Linked DNA regions of Homo sapiens: regions 2, 3 and 4 are each linked to region 1. Evidence: fine-mapped expression QTL. A gene starts in region 1. Each other region holds a variant in brackets. All regions are shown on one strand. Distances are from middle to middle.

Evidence for each region. PIP is the estimated chance that this variant, and not a neighbour inherited with it, causes the effect.
Region 2: its variant is the best candidate, but not a certain one, in a credible set for the expression of WDR45B in tibial nerve (GTEx, PIP 0.84).
Region 3: its variant is the best candidate, but not a certain one, in a credible set for the expression of WDR45B in monocytes (TOPMed, PIP 0.87).
Region 4: its variant is the best candidate, but not a certain one, in a credible set for the expression of WDR45B in esophagus mucosa (GTEx, PIP 0.77).

What each region holds. Positions count from the first base shown.
Region 1 is chr17:82,645,404-82,653,490 of GRCh38, forward strand. It overlaps WDR45B (WD repeat domain 45B), which reads right to left and starts at 3,041. Exons shown (of 10, transcript NM_019613.4): 1 at 2,871-3,041. The coding sequence starts at 2,937. RefSeq lists silencers at 2,494-2,543, 2,554-2,603, 3,204-3,273 and enhancers at 2,686-3,185, 3,564-3,633.
Region 2 is chr17:82,257,936-82,266,036 of GRCh38, forward strand. CSNK1D (casein kinase 1 delta) reads right to left here. Exons shown (of 9, transcript NM_001893.6): 2 at 7,751-7,861. Among named protein-coding and RNA genes, the nearest start is that of CSNK1D, 12 kb to the right of the region's middle. RefSeq lists an enhancer at 7,750-8,101. The variant T/C (reference allele first, on the strand shown) is at 4,084.
Region 3 is chr17:82,609,363-82,617,451 of GRCh38, forward strand. It overlaps WDR45B (WD repeat domain 45B), which reads right to left. Exons shown (of 10, transcript NM_019613.4): 8 at 7,934-8,035; 9 at 7,162-7,283; 10 at 5,200-6,663. The coding sequence ends at 6,557. Among named protein-coding and RNA genes, the nearest start is that of FOXK2-AS1, 25 kb to the left of the region's middle. The variant A/G (reference allele first, on the strand shown) is at 4,648.
Region 4 is chr17:82,973,766-82,981,866 of GRCh38, forward strand. All of the region lies in intron 6 of QTGAL (queuosine-tRNA galactosyltransferase), which reads right to left. Among named protein-coding and RNA genes, the nearest start is that of QTGAL, 74 kb to the right of the region's middle. RefSeq lists an enhancer at 4,319-5,518. The variant G/C (reference allele first, on the strand shown) is at 3,366.

The sequences.
Region 1 (8,087 bases):
TAGACATGTCACAAGAGGATATCCAAGTGGTCAAGAAACACAAAATCAGGAAAATGCAAATAAACAACAGAGAGATGTACACAGCCACCAAAATGACCAAAAATAAGAGAAAACATCAAATGTGAGCTGGGTGTAGAGCCATGGGAACTCTTAGACCTGCTAGTTGAGGGCAAAGTGGTACAACCACTTTGGAAAACTATTTGTACTATCTACTATACTCTCAATTCTACTCCTAGGTATATAGAAGTACATGCCTGTGGAAATGTGAACATATGGTCACTGAGAGACATCTTCTAGATTAATCATTACTCTTATTACTCATATTATGCTTATGGTAGCCAAAAACTGGAACGTACCCAAATGCCCAACCATGGTAGACTGGATATATGAATTGTTGTATGTCTGCACAAAAGAACATTGTACATCAAGAATGATCTGGCCGGGCACGGTGGCTCACACCTGTAATCCCAGCATTTTGGGCAGCCGAGGTGGGTGGATCACAGGGTCAGGAGATCAAGACCATCCTGGCTAACACGGTGAAACCCCATCTCTATTCAAAATACAAAAATTAGCCGGGAGCGGTGGCGGGCACCTGTAATCCCAACTACTCGGGAGCCTGAGGCAGGAGAATCGCTTGAACCCAGGAGGCAGAGGTTGCAGTGAGCTGAGATCACGCCACAGCACTCCAGCCTGGGCAAGAGCAAGATCCGTCTCGGAAAAAGAAAAAAAAAAAGATCTACAACTATACTCAACAATACGGAAAAAAAAAATCACAAACATGATGTTGAGTAAGAAACCTAGAAACAGCCTGGCGCCGTGGCTCACGCCTGTAACCCCAGCACTTTGAGAGGCCGAGGTGGGCGGATCACCTGAGGTCAGGAGTTCAAGACCAGACTCAACACGGAGAAACCCAGTCTCTACTAAAAATACAAAATTAGCCAGGCATGGTGGTGCATGCCTGTAATCTCAGCTACTCGGGAGGCTGAGACAGGAGAATTGCTTGAACCTGAGAGGCGGAGTTTGCAGTGAGCCTAGAACGCGCCATTGCACTCCAGCCTGGGCAACAAGAGCGAAAACTCCGTCTCAAAAAAAAAAAAAAAAAAAAAAAACCCAAAACAAAAAAACAGCTAGAAACAAAAATAAGTACAAAAATAAAGTACAGAAGTAGGCAAAACTAATCTATGATGTCACAAGTCAGGTAGGGAGCATTTATTGGAATCAAGCGTGGCCAGGTATATTCAATTTCTTAATTGTTAGTGACAGGTGTGTAGTTTGGAAAATTCATCACCTGAACACTTATGATATATCCACCCTTCTACAGGTATAGCACACTTCACTAAAAAGAAGGCATTACAAACACCAGATGGTTGGAAACCACCCTCTGAGAAGGCTAGGCATCTCCCTTACCATCTCAGCAAAACTTTCTTCCGGAGAAACCCCAGCACACAACCCTGGGGAAGCTGGCAGCGCCCAGGAAGCCTGACTGGTCCCAGGGCATCAGGCATCAAAATCACTGAGAGGGAGTTCTTTCAAATATGTGTAATCCGGCCGGGCGCAGTGGCTCACGCCTGTAATCCCAGCACTTTGGGAGGCCGAGGCGGGTGGATCACCTGAGGTCAGATTGAGACCAGCCTGGCCAACATGGTGAAACCCCGTCTCTACTAAAAATACAAAAAGTAGCCGGGCGTGGAGGCAGGCGCCTGTAATCCCAGCTACTCAGGAGCCTGAGGCAGGAGAATGGCGTGAACCCGGGAGGAGGAGGTTGCAGTGAGTCGAGATCGCACCAGGCTGGGCGACAGAATGAGACTCCGTCTCAAAATGAAATAAATAAATAAATAAAATTGTCTTCACATATACGGGATCATACAGCACCTGCCTGGATTCTCTTCAAAAACAAAACTTCCAAAGCCAACATGTAAAGCCTCGCAGAAGCCTGTCTCGGAATAACGGACATTCCTTTTCCTCCCCATCAGGACCTTTGGGAAGCGCGCCCTTCAAATGGGAGGTGAGGAGGCAACCATCCGAATCCAGGTCCCGCCCGCCTCCCGCGGGAATCCGACCGCGCCGCCCCGGCCGCATCCCCCGCAGCTCCGAAGCACCTGCGGGGAAGGAGGTCACCTTCCCTGGGCGCTTTAAATCATCCAGTGCTTACACCTGGATTCCGACATGGGAAAAGAAGTAAGATTTCCCTCAAAGGCCTCCCTTAAGTCCTTTGACTCCACCAAACACGAAGAAAAATCCCGGGGAGTGGGGGTGGGGAGAGTGACATTTTCCGATGGAAACCGACGGGAAAGGTGAGACCTGCACCCCACCCGCGCCACTCGCCACCAGAGGCGTCGGAGACGCCGGCTCCGCGGCTCCAGTAAACCCAAGCGAAGTCAGCTCAGCCACGGGCTACCTACTAAAGACCCTGAAAGGAACAGGGGGCAAAACGGGGTTCTGGGCAGGGCGTCAATCACGCTGTGGGGAAAATCCCGATAACCGTGGAGCCCGCAGGGAGCCAGGGAACCCGAGTGGGCGTGGCGCGCGGGGAGGGGCGTCCGCGCAGGAGGCTGGGGTTCTGTGCCGTCTCCCACCGACCTCGACCTCGGCCCGGGACGGCCGGCTGGGAGCGGTCACAACCCGGGGGGTGGGGGAGCGCGAAAGGCCAGGAAGGTGGGAGCCGGTTCGGGCCTGGTCCGGACCCCGGCTCGGGCTGGGAGCAGCGGCGAGGGCCGGGGCCGGGGGCTTCGGAGGGGAGCTCGGGCGGGGCCGGGGTCCCGGGTGGAAGGCCTGGCCGGAAAGGGGCGCCCAGGAGAGGCCTGAGAGCCGGGGACCCCGGGCTGCGGGAAGGCCCGGCCGGGCAAGGCGACAGGGCCGCGCCTCCTCACCGTGGTCCTGGTTGAAGCCGGCGTAGAGCAGCCCGTTGCCGTGAGGGTTACACGGCAGGAGGTTCATGGCGCCGCCGTGCTGGGTCGCCGCTCCTCAGCGCTGCATGCCTCTCGCTGGGGACGGCGGCCTGGTCCCTTCGGGCCGGCGCTGAGGCCGCCGCGGCCGGAAGTGCCGGACGTACGTGCGTGCGTGCTGGATGTGCGTGTGTGCTGGACGTGCGTGCGTGCGTGCTGGACGTCCGTGCGCGCGCCCGCGCCCCACCAGGGAGCCTATGGAGCGCCGAGCGCATCTAACCGAAGCGAGGCGAGACGAGGCGAGGCAGGGCGGGGAGGGGCGGGGCGGGGCGAGGCGAGGCGAGGCGAGGAAAGGCGGGGAGAGGCAGGGCGGGCGGGGCGGGATGAGGCGGGGAGAGGCAGGGCGGGCGGGGCGGGATGAGGCGGGGAGAGGCGGAGCGAGGCGGGGCGGGGAGGAGGGGGCGGGGCGGGGCGGGGCGAGGCGAGGAAAGGCGGGGAGAGGCAGGGCGGGCGGGGCGGGGCGGAGGCGGGGAGGGGCGGAGCGAGGCGGGGCGGGGAGGAGGGGGAGGGGCGGGGCGGGGAGGGGCCAGGCGGGAGCGCAGAGCACGTTCGCGGGAGGGTCTGGCCTTGTCATGCGCGGGGTCGCCGCGGGAAGGAGGATGGCCCGTTGAGGGCTTGGCACGGATACCTGACGGTCGGAGGAAGGGGGGAGAGCCGGTAAAGGAGGCTGACCCAAAACTGAGGCCCGGTGCATCATCCCTCATGAGAGGCAAGCCCAGAAGCGCCACAATACTAGGGTCCCCCTTCAGGAGACAGAGACCCCCAGGACACAGAGGGCCCCCAAGTCACTCAGCCCCCCCAGGACACGCAGCTCCTGCAGGACGCAGAGGGTGCCCAAGACACACAGTCCCCAGGACAGAGACCCCCCAGGACACAGAGGACCCCCAAGACACGCAGTCTCCAGGACACAGAGGTCCCCCCAGGACACACAGTGCCCCCAGGACACAGAGGTCCCCCAGGACACAGCACTCCCAGGACACACAGCCCCCCCGGGACACAGAAACCCCCCCAGGACACAGCCCCCCTAAGACACACAGCCTCCCCCAGTACACAGAGTCCTTTCCAGGGCACATATTCCCCCAGAAGACACAGAGGTCCCCCTAAGACACACAGCCCCCCCAGGACACACAGACCGCCAGGTCACAGAGACCTTCCCAGGACACAGGGACCTTCCCAGGACACATAGCCCCCCAGAGGACACACAGCCCCCCCACGACACAGCCCATAGAGGACACAACCCCTTAGTACCCCACCTAAAGGACAGGTGGCCCTCACACAGCACAGCCCCCGCAGGACTCCGGGACCCTCAGGTCACATTGCTCACAGGGCACAGTTCTCAACTCTTAGGGTCAGGCTGCTGGGGGCATCCTGGTCACAGAGCTTTGTCCCTGGGCTTGGCTCATGCAGTGGATGGCTGTGGAGGCCTGAGTGCTGGCCCTCGTGTCTCTTGCCCAGGGAGTCCTCTCCACTCCCCCTCCTCACTTTCCTGTCCCCTCCTAGGCTCTCCCTGTTCCCTGCAGCACACCTGATCTCCTAGGAGGTCCTGACACTGTCCCCTCGCAGCCACCTGCCTCCACCCCGTCTGTCATCCTCATCCCACCCTCGCCACTTGCCTGAGCTGGTGCTGACCTCTTAGCCATGGGGAGGAAGGAGCTGGACTGTAAGCTGAGATCACTGGCCCACTCGGGCCAGGCGGTCTCCGCATCGTGGGCATTGAACACCTCGATTCCCATACGAGAGGGGCTCCTCCCTGAGAGCGACCAGAAGCCTTCCGATGGCGGAGCGAGTTGGGCCGCCCCGGCTGTGACTAGGGCTCGGGGGCCCAGGTCCAAATCACAGAGCTGGGGCGAGACCTAAGTGCGGTCCAGGGGCTCAGCACCCTCTTCCCTGAAGGGCACTGGGTTCTCCTCTGTGCACACGTACCGGTACCTGCTGTGAGAAGTGTCACGTGGGGGAAGGAGAGAGGCGTGGGTAAGGGACATTTCCCTTCATTTCTCTGCTTGCCACCCTTGGGGCCTCCTTCAGTTCACATTTTACTCAGTCTCCCGGTGGCTGTACAGCCGGGGGCGGGGGCATGTGTGGACATCCACACACAGCGCTGGTTGTATCCTAACCAGGAAACTCAAAGCAGCCTTGCCCACCACAGTGCGTTGAATGGTGACCCTCTAAAGATGTGTCCTGGGGGGCTGAGGAGGGAGGATGGCTTGAGCCCAGGAGATTGAGGCTGAGGCTGCACTGAACTGAGATTGTGCCACTACACTCCAGCCTGGGCAACACAGCAAGACTCTGTCGCAAAAAAAAAAAAAAAAAAAGATAGGTCCACCCAGAACCTGAGAATAGGGGCTTCTTTAGGTAAAGAATCATTGCAGAAGTAATTAAGGATCTCGAGATAAGATCATCCTGGATTTGGGGTGGGCCTTAAAGCTGGTGACCGGCACCCTTGGAGGAGACAGGAATGGAGGAGATACAGGGGACAGCAGCCAGTGGGACTGGAGTGCTCAGCCCTAAGTCAGCAAGTGCAGGAATCGTGGGGTCACCAGGAGCCGGGAGAGGCATGAACGGTTCTTCCCCAGAGCCTCCCAGCCTGGGAAGGAACACAGGCTGTTGTCCAAGCCACCAGCCTGTGGGGCTTTGTTCCAGCAGCTCCAGGAATCCCGCCGTCCACTGATAGCTCAGAGGTCTCCACGTGGAAGACCTGAAGTGTGACTTGGAGTGAGGGACACGGCTCATCTCGCCCACCCTTCTCCAAGGCAGGCAGAAAGCAGAGTCTCACCTCTGGGGGTGGAGAGAATAGAAATTATACACACACACACACACACACACGCATATATATGTATTTATATATATATGTATATATCTCCTGGGCTCAGGAGATCCTCCCACCTCAGCCTCCTGAGTAGCTGCAACTACAGGTACACACCACTATGCCAGCTTAATTTTTTGTATTTTTAGTGGAGACAGGGTTTCATCATGTTGCCCAGGCTGGTCTTGAACTCCTAGGCTCAAAGGATATGCCTGCCTCAGCCTCCCAAAGTGCTGGGATTACAGGCGTGAGCCGCTGTACCTGGCCTAACGATGTATTGTTTAAAGATACAACATATTTGGACACACATAAACATATAAAGAAAACCAGGAGGATGGTTTGCACAGAATTGGAGATGGTGGTTACCGCTCGGGGCAAGAGAAGAATCTACAGTAGGCCGGGCGCGGTGGCTCACTCCTGTAATCCCAGCACTTTGGGAGGCCAAGGCGGGCTGATTGCCTGAGGTCAGCAGTTTGAGACCAGCCTGGCTAACACAGTGAAACCCCATCTCTACTAAAAATAGAAAAATTATCTGGGCGTGGTGGCAGGCTCCTGTAGTCTCAGTTACTCGGGAGGCTGAGCCAGGAGAATCGCTTGAACCCGGGAGGCGGAGGCTGCAGTGAGCTGAGATCGCACCACCGCACTCCAGCCTGGGTGACAAGAGCGAGACTGTCTCAACAACAACAAAAAAAGAATCTGCAACAGGGGAAGGGTGTGTGGTTGACCCTGAAGAACAGCCCCCAACGACACCCCCATCCCCGTGCTCAGAGCTTGTGCATGTGTTGCTGTATATGGCAGCAGGGACTTTGCAGATGTGACTACCTCAAGGACCTTGAGATGGGGAGGTTAACCTGGATGATCCAGGCGGAATCACGAGGGTCCTTACAGGAAAGAGGGAAGGGGGTCGCTGAGAGAGAGGGCTGTAGTGTGACCACAGAGGCAGACTGGAGGGACGCAGCCGGGAGCCCAGGAATGCTGCTGTCTAGAGGCTCAGGAGGCCGGAGATTGACTCTCCCTGGAGATTCCAGAAGGGACCAGCCCTACAGACACCTTTATTTTAGCCCATTCCTCCAGAACTGTAAGAAAATAAATGTGTGTTCCTTGAAGTCACTAACTTTGTGATAGTTTGTATTAGACTGAAGAATGGCCCTCAAAGATACCAGATTGTCATCTCTGGAACCTTTAAATGTGTTATTCCTGGCTGGGCACAGTGACTCACACCTGTAATCCCAGCACTTTGGGAGGCTGGGGTGGGTGGATCATGAGGTCAGGAGTTCAAGACCAGCCTGACCAACATGGCAAAAACCTGTCTCTGCTAAAAATACAAAAATTAGCCGGGCGTGGTGGCAGACGGACACCTGTAATCCCAGCTACTTGGGAGGCTAAGGCAGGAGAATCGCTTGAACCCGGAAGGCAGAGGTTGCAGTGAGCAGAGATCGGGCCATTGCACTCCAGCCTCGGCGAGAGACAGACTCCGTCTCAAAAAAAAAAATTAATAAATAAAGAAGGTATTCTCTTACTTTGGAAAAAGGGTCTCTGCAGATTTGATAAAGAGGCCCTGAGACAGGAAGACTGTCCCGAATTGTCTGGATGTCCCCAAGTGCCATCACATGCTTCTTCAGGCAGAGGAAGGATTGACCAACAGAAAACACCACATGGGGACGGAGACGGAGACTGCAGTGATGTGGCCACAGGCCAAGGAATGCCCGGGGCCCCCAGAAGCTGGAAGAGGCCGGAAGGACCCTGCCAGAGCCTCCAGAGGGTACCACGCCTTGATCTCAGCCCAGTGATGCTGATTTTGGACTTGGACTCCAGAACAGTGACGGAACACACTTCTGTTGTTTCAGGCCCCCGGGCTGTGGTAGTTTATTACAGCAACAGTAACAGACCTTGAAACCCGCGCCGAGGGCTTGGCAGGTAAGACTCTACTCCTTCTGCTTCAGCTGCTGTGTGTTGGGCACACAGGTGTTGATATTCGTAGCAGTACTACTGTTCATTCAAACAGACACACATGAACTGTTACATGAAGGATCCATTTCACAAATAGAACCATTAGAGGACCTTTTAAGAAACCCATCTCCCTTATCCCCTTTCTGTAGTGGAACGTGGAGCAATGTTAAGATTGCTGGACACTCTGGAACCTTTAATCCTCACGCCTGGAATCCCAGCACTTTGGGAGGCTGAGGTGGGAGGATCACTTGAGCCCAGGAGTTTGAGACCAGCCTGGGCAACTTATGAAGACCCTGTTGCCAAAAAAAAAAAAAAAAAAAAAAAAAGCCAGGTGTGATGGTGCACACCTGCAGTCAGCTACTCCGGAGGGCGAGGTGGGAGGACCACTG
Region 2 (8,101 bases), 390 kb before region 1:
CCAGGCTCAGGCCTATAATTCCAGCACGTTGGAGGTGGAAGTGGGAGGATCACTTAAGTCCAAGTTTGAGACCAGAAAGAAAACATACTGAGACCCCCGTCTCTACAAAAAAATTTTAAAAATTAGCTAGGCATGGTGCTGTGTGTCTACAGTCCCAGCTACTCGGGAGGCTAAGGTGGGAGGATGGCTTAGGCCCAGGAAGTCGAGACTGCAGTGAGCCGTGATTGCACCACTGCACTCCAGCCTGGGTGACAGAATGAGACCGTCTCAAAAAAAAAAAAAAAAAAAGTTAAAGGCATGAGGCATATACATATATATGTGTATTTATGTTTCGGTCTTTTATATATATGTATATATTTATATAAAAAACATAAATGTATATATAAACCTGAACATATGTGTATATATATATATTATATATATGCAAATACACATCTACTTTCAGATTTGGGAATAGTTGCATTCTGCGTCACAGTCGAGCATCCCTAATCTGAAAATCCAAACTGCCCCCATTAGCATCTCCTTTGAGCATCATGTTAGCACTCATAAAGTTCCCGACTTTGGGTGTTTCAGATACTCAACCTTATTACGGATTTGTGAATTCTTTTCTCTCTCTAGATGCAGCATTACGGATTCCCAAATTCCCTTTCTCCACTCCAATGAGTCACAGTTCCTTCTTCTTAATACTCATTTTGGAGTTTTCACTGTCCCAAATTTAGGCAACAGATCACCTTTCAAACTTTTTCCCGTACCTCATAACAAATGCCTGCCATGTGTTCCAGATTCACCTTCTTTCTTTCTGCCCCAGCCCTGGAATCAGCTGCTTCTCCAAGCACTCAGGACTCCTCTTAACAGAGAATGATAAATACTTAGAAACCCCTGAGGCCCGGTGTGCTCAGTGTTCTAGGCTGTCCTCCTTCTAAGCCCTTCTCGTGGCCAGAACCACACAAAGTATCATCACGACAGCTTTATAGTAAGTGCTGGTGTTTGCAGGGCAAATGGCCCTCTTCTTCACAAGTGTTTTAATTAATCCTGGACTTGCACTCTTCTCAGTGAATTCTAGTCACCTTGTCAGGAAAGAGAAGTGGCTGGATGTCGATGGGAACGTCATTGAATGTTAAGAGCAACTTTGGGAGACCTGACACCTGGCATCTTCCTTTCTCTGAACATAGAGGAGAATTAAGCAAATCTTCCTTAAATGTCCTTCAATAAAGTTTATATATTTTCTGCATGCAGATCTTATCTGTCTTAAAATTTACCCCAGATACCTTTTTGCTACTGTAAGCATTATGTTTTAAATTACATTTTGTAACCAATTAAATTGTTGGTTTAACAAAATGAATTGATTTTATATTTTGATCTTAAATTTGCTCAACTCTCTAATCTGTTCTGAGATCCCTATTTAGGAAATTACATCACATCACATGCCAGTAACAGCAGTTTTATTTCTGCCTTTTTCACCCTCTGCCCTGCTGAAAACAGTGTTGTGAGGCTGAGGATGATGTGGGTTACACAAAACTTGGCTGCACTGCAGGGGGGAATGGAAATCTACATAACCACCTTGGAAAAATCGATATGTATCAATATGCAGACGTCTGCGTTATCCTGCAGAACTGGACATTTGCACGTACCAAGCAACAGCCACTGCAACTTCACACGTAGGTGCTGGCATGTGTGCCCCAGACACATGGACAAGATGTGCACAAAAGCACTGTCCCTAACAGCAAATGCTAGAAGCTCCCCAGGGCTCAACGCAGTATGAGTCAGACGAAGCTACTGTATACAGCTATGTAGATGATCAAACAATGAAAATCAATTACCTAGAGCTGCAATCGATGGGGAAGAATCTCAGGAATACTCTGGGTCAAAGAAAGGTACAGAATACAGACTGCATCGCGTAACACTAAAACTTTCATGTATTCAAAAGACTATGTGGCATGGACTCCTGATCCATCTGAACTGATGGTGTACTGAGTGATGTGACTGATGGTGTACTGACTGATGGTGTACTGACTGATATGACTGATGGTGTACTGACTGATGTGACTGATGGTGTACTGAGTGATGTGACTGATGGTGTACTGACTGATGGTGTACTGACTGATGTGACTGATGGTGTACTGACTGATGTGACTGATGGTGTACTGGTGTACTGACTGATATGACTGATGGTGTACTGACTGATGTGACTGATGGTGTACTGAGTGATGTGACTGATGGTGTACTGACTGATGTGACTGATGGTGTACTGAGTGGTGACTGATGGTGTACTGACTGATGTGACTGATGGTGTACTGAGTGATGTGACTGATGGTATACCGAGTGATGTGACTGATGGTGTACTGAGTGATGCGACTGATAGTGTATTGACTGATGGTGTACTGAGTGATGTGACTGATGGTGTACTGACTGATGTGACTGATGGTGTACGGACTGATGTGACTGATGGTGTACTGACTGATGGTGTACTGAGTGATGTGACTGATGGTGTACTGAGTGATGTGACTGATGGTGTACTGACTGATGGTGTACTGAGTGATGTGACTGATGGTGTACTGACTGATGTGACTGATGGTGTACTGAGTGATGTGACTGATGGTGTACTGAGTGATGTGACTGATGGTGTACTGAGTGATGGGACTGATGGTGTACTGACTGATGGTGTACTGAGTGACGTGACTGATGGTGTACTGAGTGACGTGACTGATGGTGTACTGACTGATGTGACTGATGGTGTACTGACTGATGTGACTGATGGTGTACTGACTGATGTGACTGATGGTGTACTGACTGACGGTGTACCGACTGATGTGACTGATGGTATACTGACTGATGTGACTGATGGTGTACTGAGTGATGAGACTGATGGTCTACTGAGTGATGTGACTGATGGTGTACTGACTGATGGTGTACCGACTGATGTGACTGATGATGTATTTACTGACACCATCTTTCTTTAACAGGGGTCCTGCTGTCACCCAGGCTGGAGGGCAGTGGCACCATCACAGCTCCCTGCAGCCTTAACCTCCCGAACTCTAGCCATCCTCCTGCCTCAGCCTCCAGAGTAGCTGAGACTACAGATGTAAGCCACTGCACCTGGCCTGTTTCTTTTTCCTCCCTACCCCCCAAATGTCTCAGCAGAAATCACCCCTTTTGTTAGCTGTAAGTAACAATGTACCCCGTCATCCATGGCATTAGAGAATGAATAAAATACAGTAAAAGCAACATGCTCTTGCCTCTCAATGCACTTGTGCTCTATGGACTTACTGCTACTGGTGATTTTGCAGGAACAAGTGAAGCCAATGGGTTTGAAAAGAGAACCAAGGCTGCCTGCGCCCAAGTGTGCTAGTCATCCAGGGCCACCCTGCTGCCCTGCCCAGGTGCTGTCACGGTGGGAAGCGGCCACTCATGCTGCTATTTGTAGTCTCAACACTTTTCCCTCATGGTGCCCGAAGGTAGCTAAACATATGCGTGGGGATAAAAATCGGGTGGACAAGGCCAGATACATGAAGACATGCTCCACTCTCATCTGTGAAAAGTTTCAATATAAATGTGGGGACTGAGCATTAATGCAAATAGAAATTTTCATGAAGTTTTCAGCAGTTGAACCCTAAAATGATTTATATAACTAAAATGTTTCTAGATAATTTCATTATTTGGATTTTGAAAAAAGTTTCTTGTAGGATGACAAAGCAACAAAAACTTACAAACAGGTGAGCAAGGTCCTGGCACAGACATGGGGCTGGGCGGGCGAATGGGCTCCACAGGGAGTGTTCCCTCTCAGGTGGGCAGGGCAGGGTCCTGGTTGTTGATTTTAATGTCCTCGATACCGTACATGTTACATACATTCTTTGGTGTTGTACAATATTTCACAAGAAAAAGATGATGGAAGACAGTCGCCCACCCTCAGCCACAGAACCGTCACCCACTGGCCCGGGTTCTACACACGTACTCCCCTCTTCCCTCCCTCAAACCATGCCTACCATCTCAGCCTTGACGAAAAGCAGCTGTGAACTAAGTAAATGTCCTTTGCTGAGGGGTTCCCCAAGGAGGGAGTGAGCTAAGGCTGCTTTTGGGGGATGT[T/C]AGGATTGGAAAGAGCAGTTACAACTGTCCCCAGGTTTTGCCCACCAGTCCAGTAGGTTTTCATAAAAACTAGGTGTCTATCCAAATCTTCCACCAACATAGCTACTTTTAGTTTCTTTCTACTATTTCAGGTATTGAATCTATTGTCCCAACCAGATTTGGGACAGGTGGGAGCATCTGGGGCACATTCCTGACAGCTGAAGGCCACGTAGGGTGGCCGCCATTTCCTTCTCTGGGAGCAGACAGCTGCTTCAGCAGTAGCCTGGGGGGCTAGAATGCCCAAGTTCAAGTCTGTCCTCTGTGAAGTTACACAGCCTTCTAAACCCAGTTTCCTCATTTGCAACATAAGGCTGAAGAGCTCAGTACCCACTGCCCAGGGCTGCTATGGGCAGTGACCAGTGTGTTTTTAAGGCTCATTCTTCCCAAGCTGCAGAGAACAGAATGCACTCGCTGTGGAGCTTTCTCCTGGAAGGCAGCATCCATCAAGCAAACGTAAAGATCAGAACCTGGCACCACCACTTGACTTTCACGTGAAAGGAAGGAAAACCGCAATGAGTGGTGCTTGCTGCCCTTTTTTTCAGAGATAGCAGGACAATCTGGACCACCCACAGCAAACACTGCACAAGGGGACAATCTGTACCACCCATAACAGGACAATCTGCACAAGGGGACAATCTGCATCATCCATAGCAGACACTGCACAAGAATGGCAGTGGCAAGATCTGGTGGCTTCTGGATGAAACAATTTCTTCCCATTATTTGTCAACTCCCCGGTTTAGTCTCAAAGTGAATTCAAGAACCACCACCAGAATTAGGCCTTTTGCCTTCTCGGACATCATTTGTTTTCTAAAATGCAGATCTTTAGATCTTTACAGTATCTGACGGGCGCGATGGCTCACGCCTATAATCCCAGCACTTTGGGAGGCCAAGGTGGGCAGATCGCCTGAGATCAGGAGTTCAAAACCAGCCTGGCCAACGTGGTGAAGCCCTATCTCTACTAAAAATACAAAAATTAGCCAGGCAGGGTGGCTCATGCCTGTAATCCCAGCTACTCCAGAGGCTGAGGCAGGAGAATGGCCTGAACCCAGGAGGCGGAGGTTGCAGTGGGCCAAGATTGCGCCATTGCACTCCATCCTGGGCAACGGAGTGAGACTCTGTCTCCAAACAAAAACAAAAAACAAAAAACAAAAACAAAAACCAAAACCTTGACAGTATCCACCAGGTGTCTGTGCATTTAACACAGAAGACCTGACCTACATTTTGGAATGGTCAGGGACATGGCAATGCGCTCGAAGCCCAAATGGGAGAAAAACCATTTCTGAAATCCTATTTGGTTTCCAGGATCCTAGAGAAGGTGCCATGGGCAGGAACATGAAGGTGCAGGCTTCTTTACTCTCTTAAGCCAGCGGCCACAGGGGAAGCAACTTTGCCTGCCAGGGGCCTTCAGCACTGTCTGAAGAAAGTTTTGAGTATCACAACTAGGGGCAGGGGTGCTGCCAACATCTACCATGCAGAGAACGCACCACTACAAATGGCACTAGTGCCGAGTGGAGAAGTCCTGTCCGGAACCACGTAGCACTTTTTGGTTCAGGGTTGGCTTCCCCAGTGACCATCCCGGGCTTCTAAGGACTGGCTTTCTTCCCTTTGCCCTTGTGTACCCCTGGCTTGCAAGTTCTCCTGGAGACATCTCTCGTAAAAACTTAAGGTGTTTTTAAGCTTGCAGGTTTTACTTGACCCCAGCACCAGGCTCCCGCAGGCCAAGGCCACACCCCGCACCACCCTGCTCTATTGGCTCGTCACACCTTCAAGGCAATGCAGGCTCCAGGCCCTTGAGAAGCCAGTCCACCACCAAGGGCCGCCAGACAGGCTCCCAGGGCGGAGTCTCTGCTGAGCTTTCCCTGGGTTGGTGATGGGATTTTTCATTCCTGTGGCCTCCTCTGGTCACGTGAGGCCCGTGATGGGACACACTGGGTGCCCCTCTCTGTAACGGGTTCCCCAGGACCACAGGTGCTGCCAAAGATATTTTGTGTCACATAAACTTAGAAACGTCGGTTTCTTGTAGTAGCACAGATTACGTGCTTGTGCTGAGAAAAGATGTCAAAGAATCAAATCAACAGTCCTCCCTTTCCCGTGACAAAAGGGCTAACAGAGGCCCTGAACAGGTTTTCCTTTGGCCAGTTGCCCAAGGGGACTCACCCAACCATCCACCTACAAATGTGCCGCGGAGCCTTCTCACTGGGAGGGCTCCACAGACGTGGCACAGCCACTCTTCAGACAAAAAGCTCTGTTCCCAAAGAGGGCTCCTGCCAGACCGAAGCTCTGCTGTTGAGACACACGCTTCATGGCTCTGAAATCCCCGCAGAGAATACCCTCCTGCTCCATCAGCCCAACTGTTTGAAAGTCCAGGGAACTCGCAAGAGCTGGACTCTGAGGGGAGGACAGGAGCGCTCTGCTCCACACCTGGCCCACCGTGGAACACCAGGTACCTAAGGCCCTGGGCTGAGGGCTCGCAGAACTGGGACAGTAACTGAGCTGGAAGAGGTCATGATGGTCGCCAAGTTCAAAACCCTTGTTTTGCTCGGAGAAAACGAGCCCAGAGAGTATGAAGGGACTTCCCCCAAGCTATAAGCAAAGCATGCGAAGGAGCAGAGGCCTCACTCAGGGATCACACATCAGGAAGGCCCCACTGAGCAACACACGTGCCACTGGCAACAGCTCCAGTGACCACTGAGGGGCACACGACACCACGGGGAGCATGCATTGAAATTCACACAAAATCTTTTTTTTTTTTTTTTTTGAGACGGAGTCTCGCTCTTTCATCCAGGCTGGACTGCAGTGGCGCTATCTGGGCTCACTGCAAGCTCTGCCTCCCGGGTTCACGCCATTCTCCTGCCTCAGCCTCCCAAGTAGCTGGGACTACAGGCGCCCGCCACCACGAACGGCTAACTTTTTTTGTATTTTTAGTAGAGACGGGGTTTCACTGTGTTAGCCAGGATGGTCTCGAGCTCCTGACCTCGTGATCCGCCTGCCTCGGCCTCCCAAAGTGCTGGGATTACAGGTGTGAGCCACTGCGTCTGGCCTATTCACACACACTCTTGATTTCAGAAACCATGACCCAATATGAAGCAAAATTTAAACAAAAGGACAAGATGGTATAAGATTTTTTTTTTTTTTGGGGGGGACAGGGTCTCACTCTGTCGCCCAGGCTGGAGTGCAGTGGCGTGATCTCGGCTCACCGCAACCTCTGCCTCCCAGACTCAGGCGATTCTCCTGCCTCAGCCTCCCAAACAGCTGGGATTACAGGTGCACGCCATCACACTTGGCTAATTTTTGTATTTTTAGTAGAGACGGGGTTTCACTACGTTGGCCAGGCTAGTCTCAAACTACTGACCTCAAATGATCCACCCATCTTGGCCTCCCAAAGTGCTGGGATTCCAGGCGTGAGCCACCATGCCCGGCCCATAAGATGTTTCTTTGTGTTGAGGGAGGGTCTCTGGACCCAAGACTCTCTGAAGGAAGCTGTGACTGCTTTGTCAGGGTGTGGAGAACACTTCCCTCCCTTTTGCCCAGAACCAGTTTTGGGTTTATTTTAACCAGCAATGCTGAGTTGCTGTTCTCCCTTGTCAAACAGAACCCTGGTGTTGCTCTGTGACTGGTAAAGACCTACCTCCTCCCTGCATCATCTTGTAGATTTTGCTCTCAATGTGGAGCTGAGGGTGTTTGGTTTTGACACATTCAAGCTTGATGGCAACCTCTTCTCCTGCAGCAATGTCCGTACCTTGGCAAAGAAAGAAAACCACAACAGGAATTACCTGGTATCCACCAAATAACCCAACATGCTGGAGAAACAACAAGCACTATGTGTTTTCCATGAAGGACCAAGTGAGGGATGTGTTCTCCTTCCTAGCATAGTAAGGCGGGCTAATCGGCTGACACATCTCTGGGGGAAGTTATCCATATTCCCATTTTCACAACAGGACGAATTTGAACTGCACAGAAAGTTTATGTGGCTTCCATC
Region 3 (8,089 bases), 36 kb before region 1:
TACTCCGAAGGTTCAGGTGGGAAGATTGCTTGAACCTGGGAAGTTAAGGCCTCAGTACACCGTGATCACACCACTGCAGTTTAGCCTGAACAGTAGAGCCAGACACTGCCCCTCCCTCTGCCCCAAAAAGAAAGAAATATGAACAGTGTGAAACATTTGGAAATAGCAGAAAATAGAAATTATAAAAAGAGACTAAAAAGAAAGTCTAGGCCTGAAAAGTAAAATAGCTAACATAAGAAATTCACTAAAGGAATTTGGATTTCAGCAGGCATCAGAAAGCAGCCGTGAACTTGAAGGTAGGTCAGTGAAATTACCCAGTCTAAGCAGCAGAGAAGAAGAATGCAGGGAAAGTGAACAATAAGGGGCCTATGGGATACCATCGAGCATAACAACATAAGCATTATGAAATTTCAGAAGCAGAGAAAGAGAAGAAGACACACTTCAGGAAATAATCAATGAAAACTTCCCTGATCTGATAAAGACATGAATCTACACATCCAATAAGCTCAACGAAATCCAAGCAGGAAAAATGCAAAGAGACCCAGAGCTAACCGTATACATACTCAGCAGTAAAAGACTGAAAGCTTTTCCTTTCAGATCAGGAACAAGAATACCTGCCTTCACTACTGCTGGTCAGCACTGTACTGGAAGTCTTAGCTAGAGCCATTGACCAAGAAACGCAGGCATCTACATTGGAAGGGGTGAAAACTCTCCTTGCAGATGGAATGATTATGTGTAGAAACTTCCACAGAATACACACACACTCAACCTACTAGAGCCTGACACATGAATTCAGCAGTGTGGTAGTGTACGAGATCAAGATAAAAATAAGTTGTATTTATATGCACCAGCAATAAACAATCAAAAAGGAAATTAAGGCCAGGCGTGGTGACTCCGCCTGTAACAGTTTGGGAGAGCAAGGCAGGAGGATCGCTTCCGCCCAGGAGTTTTTTTTGTGTGTGTGTTTTGTGTTTTTTTTGTTTTTTTTTTTGAGATGGGAGTTTCGCTCGTGTTGCCCAGGCTGGAGTGCAATGGCGCAATCTCGGCTCACTGCAACCTGCGCCCCCTGGGTTCGATCGACTTCTCCTGCCTCAGCTTCCCAAGTAGCTGGGATTGCAGTCATGCACCACCACGCCCGGCTCATTTTGTATTTTTTTAGTAGAGACGGGGTTTCTCCATGTCGGTCAGGCTAGTCCCGAACTCCTGACCTCGGGTCATCCGCCCACCTCGGCTTCCCAAAGTGCTGGCATTACAGGCGTGAGCCACCATGCCCAGCTCCGCCCAGGAGTTTGAGACGAAACTGGGCAACAACACAGGGTGACCCCCACCTCTAAAACAAAATCATAAAATTAAGAATTAGCTAGGTAGGCTGAGTGCAGTAGCCCACACCTGTAATCCCAGCACTTTGGGAGGCAGAGGCAGGCGGATCACCTGAGGTCAGGAGTTTGGGACCAGCCTGGCCAACATGGTGAAACCCCATCTCTTCTAAAAATACAAAAAATTAGCCGGGCGTGGTGGTGCACACCTGTAATCCCAGCTACTTGAGAGGTGGAGGCAGGAGAATTTCTTGAACCCGGGAGGTGGAAGTTGCAGTGAGCCGAGGTTGAGCCACTGCACTCCAGCCTGGGAGACAAAGCGAAACTCCGTTTCAAAAACAAACAAACAAAACATAAAGAAATTAGCCAGGCATGGTGGTGCATGCCTATGGTCCTAGCTATTTGGGAAACTGGAGCAGAAGGATCACTTGAGCCCAGGAGGGCGAGGCTGCAGTGAGCCTTGATTGCACCCCGGCACTCCAGCCTGGGTGACAGAGCCAAAAAAAAAAAGAAAAAAAGAAGCACGGCTGGGCACGGTGGCTCACACCTGTAATCCCAATACTTTGGGAGGCTGAGGTGGGAGGACTGCTTCAGGCCAGGTGTTCAAGACCAGCCTGGAGAACACAGACACCGTCTCTACAAAACAATAACAAAAATTAGCCGGGCGTGGTGGTGCACGCCTGTAGTCCCGGCTACTCAGGAGGCTGAGGTGGGAGGATCACGTGAATCCAGGAGACAGAGGTTGCAGTGAGCTGAGATTGCATCACCACACTCCAGCCTGGAGTGAGACCCTGTCTCAAAAAAAAAAAGGATAGGCAGCTGTCGTATATGCTGATAATGGTAAAAATAATGTGAGACATAAGTTCAAGTCCCTTGTGCAAATACTGAAACTGAGGTAGAAAAATGCTGATTTTCTGGAGTTACACTCTGCTATCAAGGTCAGGAGGACACCCTTTTCCACAGTATCTGGCCAGATCCTTGCCTGTTTTTTCCACATACCCGAGAGAGATTAGGAGATAATTAGCCCTCAGCTCGCATGCCCCAGAAGCGTCGTCAGACTCACCATCTGAAACATCTTACACAGATGACAGGCTTCTGGCTGGCAGCCAGCATGGACAACTCAAGATGGGGCCGCAGGTGTCTGTGGGAGGCTCAGAGCAAATGTCGGGGGATTCACGGCCTCTACAGACGGTGGCGTCTCTCTTGAACAGAGCTACAAAAGAAATGACATTTCACTAGATGCCACCTCAGTCTCAAGTCTACATTTGCTTTTGTTAAAACCCATTGTATGTCTACATTTTGGTGGATGTTGCGTAAGACAAATCATTTTAAAATTAATGCCAAAACCACAAAATCACTAACCTGATACGAAATTCCAGAATGCGGCAAGAATATTACAAGCTAAATTAGAAATAAGAATCCTCTATACATATACATCCAAAAAAAAAAAAAATCCCCAAGTATTAGTAGAATTCTTTTTTTTTTTTCCTGAGATAGAGTCTCTGTCACCCAGGCAGGCGTGCAGTGCTGCGATCTCGGCTCACTGCAGCCTCCATCTGCCCGGTTCAACTGATTCTCCTGCCTCACGCTCCCAAGTAGCTGGGACTACAGGCACGCGCCACCACGCCTGGTTAATTTTTGTATTTTTAGTAGAGACAGGGTTTCACCATGTTGGCCAGGCTGGTCTCGAGCTCCTGACCTCAGGTGATCCACCCACCTCAGGCTCCCAAAGTGCTGGGATTACAGGCGTGAGCCACCGCGCCTGGCGAATTCAGCAGTATTTAAGGATAACACACTGTGACCAAGTGGGCTTTCCCACAGGACAGCAAGGTTGGCTCAACATTCAAAAATCAACGTGATGCTCCACGTTCACGGCGTAAAAGATAGGTGTGATCATCACAACAGATGCAGAAAAGTCACTTAACAAAATTCAACAGCCATTCCTAGCGGCAGGCAGGGTCACCCCCAAGTCCCCACTCAATAAAGGAAAATCAGGAGGCATCCTCCAAGAAGACCCAGATGCTGGAATCGGCAGACAAGGACTTGAAAGCGCACAGAGCGCGTACAAATGGGCAGACACAAGTCATCAGCCACGAATTAGAAACCAACTTTAGAACTGACAAATGTATCTGAAATAAAAAAGGCGGCCAGGCGTGGTGGCTGTAATCCGAGCACTTTGGGAGGCCAAGGTGGGAAGATCGCTTGAGCCCAGGAGGTGGAGGAGAAACCCCGTCTCTACCAAAACAATTTTTTAAATAAAAATAGATGTTACGTTCAGGTGTGGGGTTGTCTGAGAGTGATCTTCTCTGGAGGTAGAAACACGGGGCAATTTTGCTTACAAATTTATATTTTTCTATTATTTTATAAGGAACTTTTTTTTCATTGTATTCTCTGATCCATCTGGAAGAGAAAAATTTTGGTACAAGTTTCAACAATGTCATCAACCAAATGCCTCTGACACAACAGAAGAGAGATGAGGACTAAGTCACGTGAAAGAGCTCTGGCATTCAGGGGCTTGGTTTGGTTGCAGAAAGAAAACACAAATATAAAACTCTTTGATCACAGAAGGCTGCAGATGGCCAGCGCCCCCGACTACAGTGGTGGGAGCGGGAGGTGGCCAGGGGTTCACACAGGCATCAACGCCAAACACAGGGTGGGTATGGGTCAGGGCTGCGTTCCACAGGGCACAAGCCGCCTGTCCCCGCAAGACATCCCAGGGCCACAGGGGAGGGAGGACAGACCAGAAACGCAGCCGGAGTCATCCATGCCCACGCACCTGTACGATCAGACAGGAAAGCTGCTGAGTAGGCACCGTCTGAGGCAGTCACTCTGGAGTCCCTTCGCACCCACGTCCGGGGCACAGGAGGTTCGTGGGGGAGGCAGCAGCCCGGCCTTGTTTCCCATACACTGCGCTTCCCATCAGTTCCACTTGAAAAGCAGCTGCGCTCCCGAGTCCGCCGGCCTAGGGACACCGTGTCCTTGCCGCTCTACAGTGATTTTTAAAAAGCACATGCCTGGGGAGGGCCGGTGCCGCCAGGGCCTCACATGAGGCACGTCCGTGCAGGCCCTCGCCACGTTCCTGGTGAACGGGCCTGTGACACAGCCCCGCCGTCCGCATCAGTTCTGAGGCTGTTCACGTGCACTGCGAGAAAACCCACCCTTCTTGCATGCATTTCCCCCAGATTCATGTTTATCAACTGGTAATTACGCTCCTACTCCCCCACCCAGAGTCAGATCTCAAGTGTTAGACAAGCCAGGGTGACGCCGGCTCACTTGAAGCTGCCACTTCAACATGCAGGGACATTGCTGCTGCCAGCCACCCTCCACCTCC[A/G]CAGGCCAGCAGGAGCCTCAGACCTCCCAGAGCCACACAGGCCTCCTACAGATGCATTTCCTCCCTCCCTCCTCCAGAGGTGCCCTTGGGGCACAGGGAGAGAGGAGGGCAGGCCGCCCCGTCCCGACACAGGGAGAGAGGAGGGCAGGCCGTCCCATCCCCGACACAGGGAGAGAGGAGGGCAGGCCGCCCCGTCCCGCCACAGGGAGTGAGGAGGGCAGGCCGCCCCGTCCCGCCACAGGGAGTGAGGAGGGCAGGCCGCCCCGTCCCGCCACAGGGAGTGAGGAGGGCAGGCCGCCCCGTCCCGACACAGGGAGTGAGGAGGGCAGGCTGTCCTGTCCCGACACAGGGAATGAGGAGGGCAGGCTGTCCTGTCCCGACACAGGGAGTGAAGCTCCAGGCTCCGCACCCAGTGACCCTGGCTTCCACCTTGTCCTGTCACAGGCCGGCGCCTCTTCAGGCCCACAGGCTGTTCTGAAGCCTACACTCCAACCAGATTCTCACAGCAAGGGGAAGAGTGTTTGGCTTCATAACACACAATTCTACTTCCCATTACAGGTCCAGACTACAACAAAATTAGTCACTTTTATTTAAAAGAAACATTACAAATAAGTGTGCAAAATTAAACATCATGATTAAATACACATGAAAGGAACATGCATACTTTACAGCAACATCCACAGAGAATTAGCTGATTACATGACAGTGACAGTAAAGAACTAAAGAAACCGGCAAAACCGAGAACTCGCTGCTATGCAGGTTTTACATGTTTGCAATCTGAAATCAAAACCATAAAATAGAGTTTAACGGGAATTTAAGAAAATTAAATATATATCCCAAGTAGCTGACAATGTAGAGCCCATAACCTAGTTACCAAATGTTAAAAAAAGTTATGTGCCTCTCCTTCCCAAAATGTTAGTGTGTAGCTATTCTTACAAATGAGGGGAGGGGAGACGGTGGACCTGGGGGCTCGGAGGCCAGACCAGGGCATTTCCCTCCACACCAGCGGGAACTGCATGGACCCTCCCAGACCCTGCTCTGGCAGACGACCCCGAAGTTAAAGGATGTTTTCCCCATAACGAATGTTCAAAGTTCGTGCATCACTCTGCTGTTCCCTACACATAACCGGGAAACAGGTTTAATCCAAAATGTAACCAGGAGACCCCCCGTCCCCGCCCCGCACACGCCTGAGGTGTGACGGCTCGGCTTCTAGAGTGGCCTGGTGTCTGCCTCATTCTAATGGCCCCAACGGAGACGGGGACGCCACGCACGGGCACAGGTGACGTCACGGGCACAGATGACCACGTTGCGGGTACGGAGAAGACCACAGGCTGGGCTCACACGAGGGGAAACATTCACACTGTGTTCTCTCTACAGGGTCAGGTCATTTTTCTTCATGTTCGGGCGGGAAAAGGAATTCCTTTCTCCTTTTCTAAGGCAAGCTGCTGGTGTTGTATTCAATCTGCTTATCATGTAAGAACTTACATCTGCACACTTGTTCACTCCCCCGCTGCAGACTCAGTAAGAACGACGGAATCTGCTGCAAAAACAAACCTGAACTCGTCCACCCTCTCAGCCCAGTCCCCAGGTCCGTATGGAGCCCCCGTCAGTGTGAGGATGCGGCGGAGCCACTGAAGCTAACGTCACAGCTGAACTCATGGGAACAGCCAGTGGCCGCCAGTCGAGCTGGTCACAGCCACTGAGTTACCTACGGTGCCTTGATGATGATTCTCTCTTTAATACTGGAAATGGGAGTCCTTAGGAAAGCAGACAACCACGTATGGCTTCGAGACCAAGGTCCCTGGGCAGCCCCTCCAGCCCGTGGCCCAGGAGGCCCCTGGGGCACTGGCACCAGCCCCGAGAGTCTGAAGGCGGCAGGTGGTGGGTGCTGTGGCGCCCCCAGCTGGAGTCACAGCTTGTCATCGGTCATCTCTAGAAACTGCGCGTAGACATCTCGGATGCACTCCCCCTTGGGGTTGAACAGGAATTTGTAGTAGCTGCCGTCTGCACAAATTGCTGGGATAGAAGGAGACCATTTTACCTGTGTGTTTCTTTCCCTCAAGTTAAAAGCAACGAGTCCCACTGAGCTGAACTGCAAAGGGCCTCTTGGAGCCAGGCAGCTGCTCTGAAAGCCCTGAAAGGCCCCAGGGTCCCCACTGAATGCGTTCGGTCGGCACCGTGGCCGGGAATCCTGACTGTCTTGGTGTGAGCATCTAATCACCCGGTGTTGGCTACAGGGTTAAGAAACATTCTTGGTCATCTATACAAACATTGGAAGACCTGTCCCTGTGATTTCCTGGGGGAAACTGGAGGGATGGGGGCTGAAGACATCCCAAATGGCCGTGCAGACCGTAAGCGGGACACACTGAGCCCACAGGAGAAATAAGGGGAACTGGGCGGCCATCGGTGCCACAGCGCGGTGCTGGGACGTCCATGGGAAGTTAGGTCTGACGCTCAGTGGATGGAGCCCAGGTGGGGCGGGTGGGGACGTTCTCTCCAGGAAGGACCACTCACCAATGACGGCGTTTGGCTCTGTTCCAAAGGCACAAATGCACGGAGAGCCTGAGGGAACCTGAAACTTGGAGAAACTCCACTTGGAACTGAAGTATTTTGGAAGGAAACTGGCTGAGGCCAAACTGTGAAGACAAGAAAAGAAAGGGTGGTTCAAAGTTTACAGGAAAAAAAATCACCTGCGTAAGCTCAGAATACGCTGCTGAAAATACGAAAATGCTCCTTCATATGGTTTGAGCTTTAATGAATTTTTTTTTTGCCATGCATGACAAAGCCTGTTGTACAATTTTATTTAAAAAAAAAATTTTTTTTTTTGAGACGGAGTCTCGCTCTGTAGCCCAGGCTGGAGTGCAGGGGCGCAATCTCGGCTCACTGCAGCCTCCACCTCCCGGCTTCAAGCGATTCTCCTGCCTCAGCCTCCCGAGTAGCTGGGACTACAGGCACCCGCCACCACGCCCGGCTAGTTTTTGTTTTTTAGTAGAGATGGGGTTTCACCATGTTAGCCAGGATGGTCTCGAACTCCTGACCTCAGGTGATCTGCCCACCTCGGCCTCCCAAAGTGCTGGGATTACAGGCATGAGCCACTGTGCCCAGCCTGCACTGATTTTTAAACCCCAACAAATATAAAATTAAATGAAAAAGATTTCAGCGCTGATAGCATATGAGGTCTGTCCACACCACCCTGCTGGGGTGGGGGGCCTGTCCCGTCCACACTGAAACACTGGGGACTCCTCTCATCCCCCGGCTTTTCCCCAGCAGGCATCCTAACACCTACCTGGACTGTTTATTCCTTTTTGGATCTTCAGCTGCAAAAATATGCACTGTGCCGTGGTCGCTGGATACGCAGATGAGGGACGCATCCTGATTGAAGTTGATGCTGCAGAGAAAACCAGCACAGCTCAGGCCTTGTGTGGATGTGGAGGAGTCCAGA
Region 4 (8,101 bases), 330 kb after region 1:
TTACGAACAGTCGGACTGGGTCCCAGAGAGGTGACCCAAAGGGGATGGAGCTCAGGGGCTCTCAGGCAGTGGCCCCACAATGGCGCTGGGGCTGCTAAGAGATGCCTTAGGATTCAACTCCTCTCCCGTGTGGACAGGAGAGAGTGGCAGAGACCCAGGTGGGCCCCGTGTACCTGTGTGTTCCCACCCCGCCTGCCACTGACCAGCAAGCAGCCCAGCCCCTTGCCCCATGGGGCGCGTTTCACCGTGGGTCGAGAGGGTGTCGTGGACCAGCACTCCACGCTCCATGGGCGACTGCCACTGCAGTGCTGTTTCTGCCCCTCGGAGAGTTCTCCTGCCCCTTGGGCCTCCCTGCCTCCAGTCTGAGCCGGTTCCAGGCTGTCCTCTACGGAGCTGGCAGAAGGTCCCACTTCCACTCTCCTGGTCCTCCCTGGCTCCTCATCAACCCTCAGCACCAAGCGTGGGCCCCACAGGTTTGGGGAACGCGTGCTGACTGAGGCCGCCCGGGTGGCCGGCGCTGACAAGCTGACCCTGGACACTGTGCGTGACAACCACACAGGCCCCCTGAGGTGAAGGACGAGCTTGGCTGAACGCTGGCCGCCTCGAGCAGAGGCCCAGGGCCCAGAGGTGGCTCAGTCTCAGCAGAACACAGCTGCCCTCAGGAGCTGCCCGCAAAGCAGCCAGCAGATTCAGGCGGGGCGGAGTCAGGGCGGACTTGGTGCCTCCCCAAGGGGTCAGGCAGAGCTGCGTCCCCTCGTGAGGGACAGGAGTGAGGCAGGAGGCTGCCAGCTGCCTGTTCCCATCCTGATCATATTTGCGGAGTGAGCTCAGGCTGTAAATGACCCTCTGACTGCTTGTGTGTGGGGATCCACCCAGGGTCTAATCAGCACATTCACCCCCCACAGCGGGTGTCCCTGGCCCCACATCAAGGCTGAGGGTGTGGGGGGCCACATTCCCTTCCAGTCTGAACTGGACCCTGGGGGTGAGCTGGGTCCCCCCCACAGCTTGGAACAGCGGCAGGAGGCACAGGCAGGCTGGGAACCAGTGTCTGCACGGCGCAGACAGGCACAGGTGGAAGCAGGCAAAGAACGTGGGGCTGGGACAGAGCCCGACTCCATCCTCCCAGGGGCCGGAGGCCACTTATGGGGAACCAGGGCCCCAGGACAGAGCCGGACTCCATCCTCCCAGGGACCGGAGGCCACTATGGAGAGTCAGGGCCCCGGGACAGAGCCGGACTCCATCCTCCCAGGGGCCGGAGGCCACTTATGGGGAACCAGGGCCCCAGGACAGAGCCCGACTCCATCCTCCCAGGGACCAGAGGCCACTATGGAGAGTCAGGGCCCCGGGACAGAGCCGGACTCCATCCTCCCAGGGGCCGGAGGCCACTTATGGGGAACGAGGGCCCCGGGACAGAGCCGGACTCCATCCTCCCAGGGACCAGAGGCCACTATGGAGAGTCAGGGCCCCGGGACAGAGCCGGACTCCATCCTCCCAGGGGCCGGAGGCCACTTATGGGGAACGAGGGCCCCGGGACAGAGCCGGACTCCATCCTCCCAGGGACCAGAGGCCACTATGGAGAGTCAGGGCCCCGGGACAGAGCCGGACTCCATCCTCCCAGGGACCAGAGGCCACTATGGAGAGTCAGGGCCCCGGGACAGAGCCGGACTCCATCCTCCCAGGGGCTGGAGGCCACTTATGGGGAACGAGGGCCCCGGGACAGAGCCGAACTCCATCCTCCCAGGGACCAGAGGCCACTATGGAGAGTCAGGGCCCCGGGACAGAGCCGGACTCCATCCTCCCAGGGACCAGAGGCCACTATGGAGAGTCAGGGCCCCGGGACAGAGCCGGACTCCATCCTCCCAGGGACCAGAGGCCACTATGGAGAGTCAGGGCCCCGGGACAGAGCCGGACTCCATCCTCCCAGGGACCAGAGGCCACTATGGAGAGTCAGGGCCCCGGGACAGAGCCGGACTCCATCCTCCCAGGGACCAGAGGCCACTATGGGGAACGAGGGCCCCGGGACAGAGCCGGACTCCATCCTCCCAGGGGCCGGAGGCCACTTATGGGGAAACAGGGCCCCAGGACAGAGCCCGACTCCATCCTCCCAGGGGCCGGAGGCCACTTATGGGGAACGAGGGCCCCGGGACAGAGCCAGACTCCATCCTCCCAGGGACCAGAGGCCACTATGGAGAGTCAGGGCCCCGGGACAGAGCCGGACTCCATCCTCCCAGGGGCTGGAGGCCACTTATGGGGAACGAGGGCCCCGGGACAGAGCCGGACTCCATCCTCCCAGGGGCTGGAGGCCACTTATGGGGAAACAGGGCCCCAGGACAGAGCCCGACTCCATCCTCCCAGGGGCCGGAGGCCACTTATGGGGAACGAGGGCCCCGGGACAGAGCCAGACTCCATCCTCCCAGGGACCAGAGGCCACTATGGAGAGTCAGGGCCCCGGGACAGAGCCGGACTCCATCCTCCCAGGGACCAGAGGCCACTTATGGGGAAACAGGGCCCCAGGACAGAGCCGGATTCCATCCTCCCAGGGGCTGGAGGCCACTTATGGGGAACGAGGGCCCCGGGACAGAGCCGGACTCCATCCTCCCAGGGACCAGAGGCCACTATGGAGAGTCAGGGCCCCGGGACAGAGCCGGACTCCATCCTCCCAGGGACCAGAGGCCACTATGGAGAGTCAGGGCCCCGGGACAGAGCCGGACTCCATCCTCCCAGGGGCCAGAGGCCACTTATGGGGAAACAGGGCCCCAGGACAGAGCCCGACTCCATCCTCCCAGGGGCCGGAGGCCACTTATGGGGAACAAGGGCCCCGGGACAGAGCCGGACTCCATCCTCCCAGGGACCAGAGGCCACTATGGAGAGTCAGGGCCCCGGGACAGAGCCGGACTCCATCCTCCCAGGGACCAGAGGCCACTATGGAGAGTCAGGGCCCCGGGACAGAGCCGGACTCCATCCTCCCAGGGACCAGAGGCCACTATGGAGAGTCAGGGCCCCGGGACAGAGCCGGACTCCATCCTCCCAGGGACCAGAGGCCACTATGGAGAGTCAGGGCCCCGGGACAGAGCCGAACTCCATCCTCCCAGGGACCAGAGGCCACTATGGAGAGTCAGGGCCCCGGGACAGAGCCGGATTCCATCCTCCCAGGGGCTGGAGGCCACTTATGGGGAACGAGGGCCCCGGGACAGAGCCGAACTCCATCCTCCCAGGGGCCGGAGGCCACCGTCAGGGAGTCAGGGCCCCAGGTGGCCCCAGGCAGGGAGGCCGGAAGACAGTCCTGCTGACCCGCAGTGCCCACCTCGAAGGCCACGGCAGGGGAGAAACTTAACGTAAGCCAAACGCTGGCCCACTGAACAAAG[G/C]GAGGCAGAGGAACACTGGGAAACGTATTCTCTATTAGAAGGAAAGATCGAGGACACCCATGAACGGAGGCCCGAAAGCAAGAGGAAAGGGGCTTACAGGCCGCGAAGTCGGAACCTGCGTGAATAAGGACAGCTGCGGCGCCGCCCCGACACGGACCGTGTTTGCATCCGTGACTTTAAAACGGCTTGAGGATGGAACCCCATGAACAGTAACACCCCCCACCCACCGGAGTATTCAGGAGTGACTGAGGTCGGGTCTGGGGTTGCTTCGAAAGACTCCGGGTGCTCAGTGTTGGGAGGGGGGTGAGTACCGTTATGTGACAGTGGTCTCTACCCCTTGGTGTACTTAACATTTTCAACAAAAAAAAACTTTTCTTTGTTTAAAAGCACTCATGGGTATCTGGAACGCAGCTACAGTGGGGAGCGAGCAACGCCCCAATCCTCAGGCTCTCCGGGGGGTCTGGGGTGCAACTCGAAACCCACCGCTGGTGACTCCCACTTCTGGTCACCGTGAAAGAGCTGGACCACTCTCCCTCCTCAGACAACTAGAAAATCACACAGAATCTGTGAAATGGAGGTGTTCAGGCACTGGACGCAGGGCAGGACGGTGACGCCCGAGAGGAGAAGCCGGCTGATTCCAGTCTGGGACCGAGGGGGGTGGAACGAGGCCTCAGAACAGCCTCGTTTTCACGCTGCCCATGTCACACACGAGCATGGAAACGTACGCTCTAGTACTTCCTGCGGTTTCTGTCTTCTCATCACCGGGGTTTGGTGCCCAGCATTTCCGCTCCATCCCGACCGATGTGCACTCCTGTTTTCCGTTTCCCAAGCTCCTCCTGCCCTGGGGCTTGGCTGGAGGTTCCCACAGGTGGTGGCAGTGGGTGGTCACCATGCGACCCGGGCCACCTCTGGTTACGTGGAGGGCATCAGGTGTTTTCCGTTGCTCCCCGAGTAATTCCGTAATTTTAAAAAAGCACGTGCTGTTTGTACCTAAAATCCTTTATTTCTATAAAAACAAGCCACGCGTGGCCTTTCCTTTCCCGGCTCCCAGGGCTGAACTCCCCTGCCTCCTCCTGGGGTCCCTTCTGCTTCTCCCCCAGGCTGCGAGTCTGTGAGTCCCATCTCACACCTTCCTCAGTTTGCTTCCTAATTTTAGGGACTGGCTCCAGCAAAGCCCCGAGGAAGGTTTTATCGGAGATGGATATGTTGAATCTGAATATGAAAAGGTTGTTATATCTCTGCACGTGATTGACACTTTGGTGAGGCATAAAATTCTTAGTTCAAAATCCTTTCTGTGAGAAATCTGAAACTAGTGTCCTGGTGTCTCCTGGATTCCGCTGCTGTGAGTGAGGAATTCCGGGCTCTTCGATTCCTGCTCCTTGGTGTTCCTCCCTCTGACTGTGCTTGGGCTCTGAAGCATCCCGACCGTGAACCCGGATGCAGGTCTCATTTCCTGCACGCAACACCAGGTGAGCCCTTCTAATCAGGTCACTCGTACGTTTTGGTTCTAGGAAATTTTTCTGTATTTTTCTTAGTTAATTTACTTCCTTCTATTTTTTAAAAAATCTGATTTTGCTATGTTGGACCAGTTGAAGCTGGGAGTGAAGTTTCTCAGAATGCCCTTCTCAGTACGAATCCAGTTGAGTCTAGAGACAAGGAGGAAGACGCCATTGCTCCCACATGTCAAGGGCCTGGTGAGTCTTCTCCACAACCCCAGCAATCAGCAGCAGCCCCACCCACTTCCCAATAATCCATGGGCCAAAGAGGAAGTCTCAAAAGAAATCTAAAATGTATTGACCAAAATGAAAATGGAAGTACATTGAAAACCTGTACAATGCGGCTGATGTAGTATGTAAAGGGAAGTTGCTGGCTCTACATGCTTACATTAAAAGAGAAGAGAGGTCTGAGGACAAAAAACTCAGCTTCCACATTAGAAAAACCACAAAGGAAGAGCAAAATGACACCCCAAAGCAAGCAGAAAAAAGAAACAATCAGGCAGAAATGAATGAAATTGAAAACAGAAAAACAATAGAGGAAAGTCAAACCAAGAGCTGGCTCTTTGAAGAGATTAATAAAATAGATAATAAACCAAGACTGATAAAAAAGTGAGAGGACCCAAATAACTAATACCTAAAATGAAAGGGGATATTACTACAGGCCTCACAGATACTAAACGCATCACAGAGAATACTATCAAATAACCCTAAACACACAAACTGGATAATTTAGAGCAAGTGGATCAATTCCTCAAAAATCGCAAGCTGCCAGAGCTGTAAGTTGCATTATACCAAGACGAAATAGAGTCTGAACAGTCCTGTAACTTTTAGGTATACGTTTCTGTAAGTTAGCAGTGGACAATTAGAAACCAAAATTAAACACACAGTAGCATGTATAATTGCCTAAAACAAATACTTAGGTATAAATCTAACAAATGTACAGGACTTGTACACTAAAAACTACAACATGTGAATGAAGGAAATCGAGGAAAATTTCAGTGGAGGACGGGACAAATAGTGAATTGGAAAACTCTATAGTAAAGATGTCAACTCTATACAAATTGATTTGTAAGTTTAACTCACTTGCTATGAAAATCTCAGCTAGATTCTTTGTAAATATAGGCAAGCTGATTCTAAAATTTATATACAGAGGCAGAAATACTAGAATAGCCAAAAACAAGTTAGAGGAAACACATTAACCAATTTTAAGACCTGGTCATCAAGATGATGTTACTGGTGGAGGGACAGACACACAGGTCAATGGACTAGAACAAAGTCCAGGAACAGACAGACCCACACTCTGTGGTCAGATGGTTTTTTGACAAGGCCCAGAAGCAACCAGTGGAAGAAGGATTTTCAGCAAAATCAGTGTAGAAACATGTGGGCATTCATAAGCCAAAACGAACAAACAAAACCCTTGATTTAAACCTCACACTAACTCAGCCTACAAGGACATAGCTCTAAATGTAAAATGTAAAACTATAAAACTTTTAGAAGAAAATCCTTATGTCCTAGGGTTAGGTGAAGTAGTCTTGGGTGTTGACACTCAAAGCATATTAAAAAAATACATCAAAAAATATCAATTAATTGGACTTCATCAAAATTAGAAACTTTTGTTCTGTGAAAAATTCTACGTGGATGAAAAGGGAAGCCCCCACGTAGAAAAGGCTGTTTTTCCTCTGCTCTCCCACCACAATGTGCGGGTCTGTTCTCCATACACCAAGCAAACCATCAGTTCTGGAGTAGACACCAGTCAGGCATCCTCTAACTCAATCCCAACACCATCTACCTGGAGACAGCCTCAGACCCCCCCAGGTGAGGGCTCAGTCCCCGTGACCCCTTCTCTTCAACTTCCAATGCCAACTGAAGTCCCAGGCTGTTTGACCCTCCAGCTATAAATCGGGGTTCCCACAACCTCTTCCTTGGATTCAGTTAATTTTCTAGAGGGACCCACAGAATTCAGGGAAACACTTACTTACACCTACCAGTTTATTAAAAAGAATGTTATTCAAGGATACAGATGAAGAGATGACGGGGAAAGGTATGGGGGAAGTGGTGTAGACGGTCTAGGTCCTCTTGGGGCCCAACACCCTCCAGGACCCTGCATGTGTTCAGCCATCTGGAAGTCCCCGAGGCTCGTCCCTTTGGGTTACTGTACGAGTTCATGATGTAGGTGTGGTTGCGTAGCTCGTGGGCCATTGCTGATCACCCTAAGCCTCAACCCCTTTCCCTCCCCGGAGGTTTGGGGGTGGGGCTCAAAGTTCCAACCCTCTGAGCACATGGCTGGTTCCCCTGGCAACCAGCCCCCCTCATCCTGCGGTATCTAGGGGTGTTCCAAAAATGCCTCATTAACATAAACTCAGGTGTGTTTGAAGGAACTTGTAAACAAAAGACTCTTCCAGCTTTATCTTTCAGAATTTACTTCAGAAACCAAGGACAAAAGGCTCAATACTTTAAAAGATATTCTTATTGCTCTAGTTACTTAGGAAATAATTACAGGGGGTCAGAGTCAGGGATCCTGGATAAAACGCCAAATCCATGATCCTAGTTCCAGCCACAGATCAGGAGGAAATGAGGTAGGCCCTTTAGCAATACAGGGTTTAGGGTGACCCACTCCCCATGCAGCCGAAAATCCACGTATAACCTTGGACTCCCCCAAAACTTAAGCACTGAGAAACAAAAGTGGCTCAGAGGAGTCGGCGCCACGCGAGGTATTCACCAGCCCCAGCGGAGCTGCGAGGGTGAGACCTGCATCATGCCTCCCCCGCCGCACCCATGTGGGGCCAACTGTTTAAAGGCATTTGTCTTCCTTTCCTTCCCTGTTGTTTCCAGGCTGGCTGAAAAATCACAAGAAATGTTACACAAGTTAGACAATGTGACCTTCACCCATTATCTTCATGCTCCTGGAATCTGTGATGCAAAGAACCATCTACAGCCAGTCAATAGCTTATGTTATTTTAATGAACCAGTGTGGGAACTTGCCCCTTCTTTCTTTCTTTCAAACCCACTGTAACTGCTGCTAACTGGAGCATATGTTCGGAGCCACCTGAATCTACGTCCCCCAGGATGCCGTCCTCACACGTGGCCCAAATAAACCCTCCACATGTACTAACTTTGCCTCAGCATCTTTCTTTAGGTTGACATGGCTGAGAGCCTACTGTTGACCGGATGCCTTACCAATAACATAAACAGGTGATCAACATTGTCCTGTACATTCTGTACGTTTTGTGTATTATATAC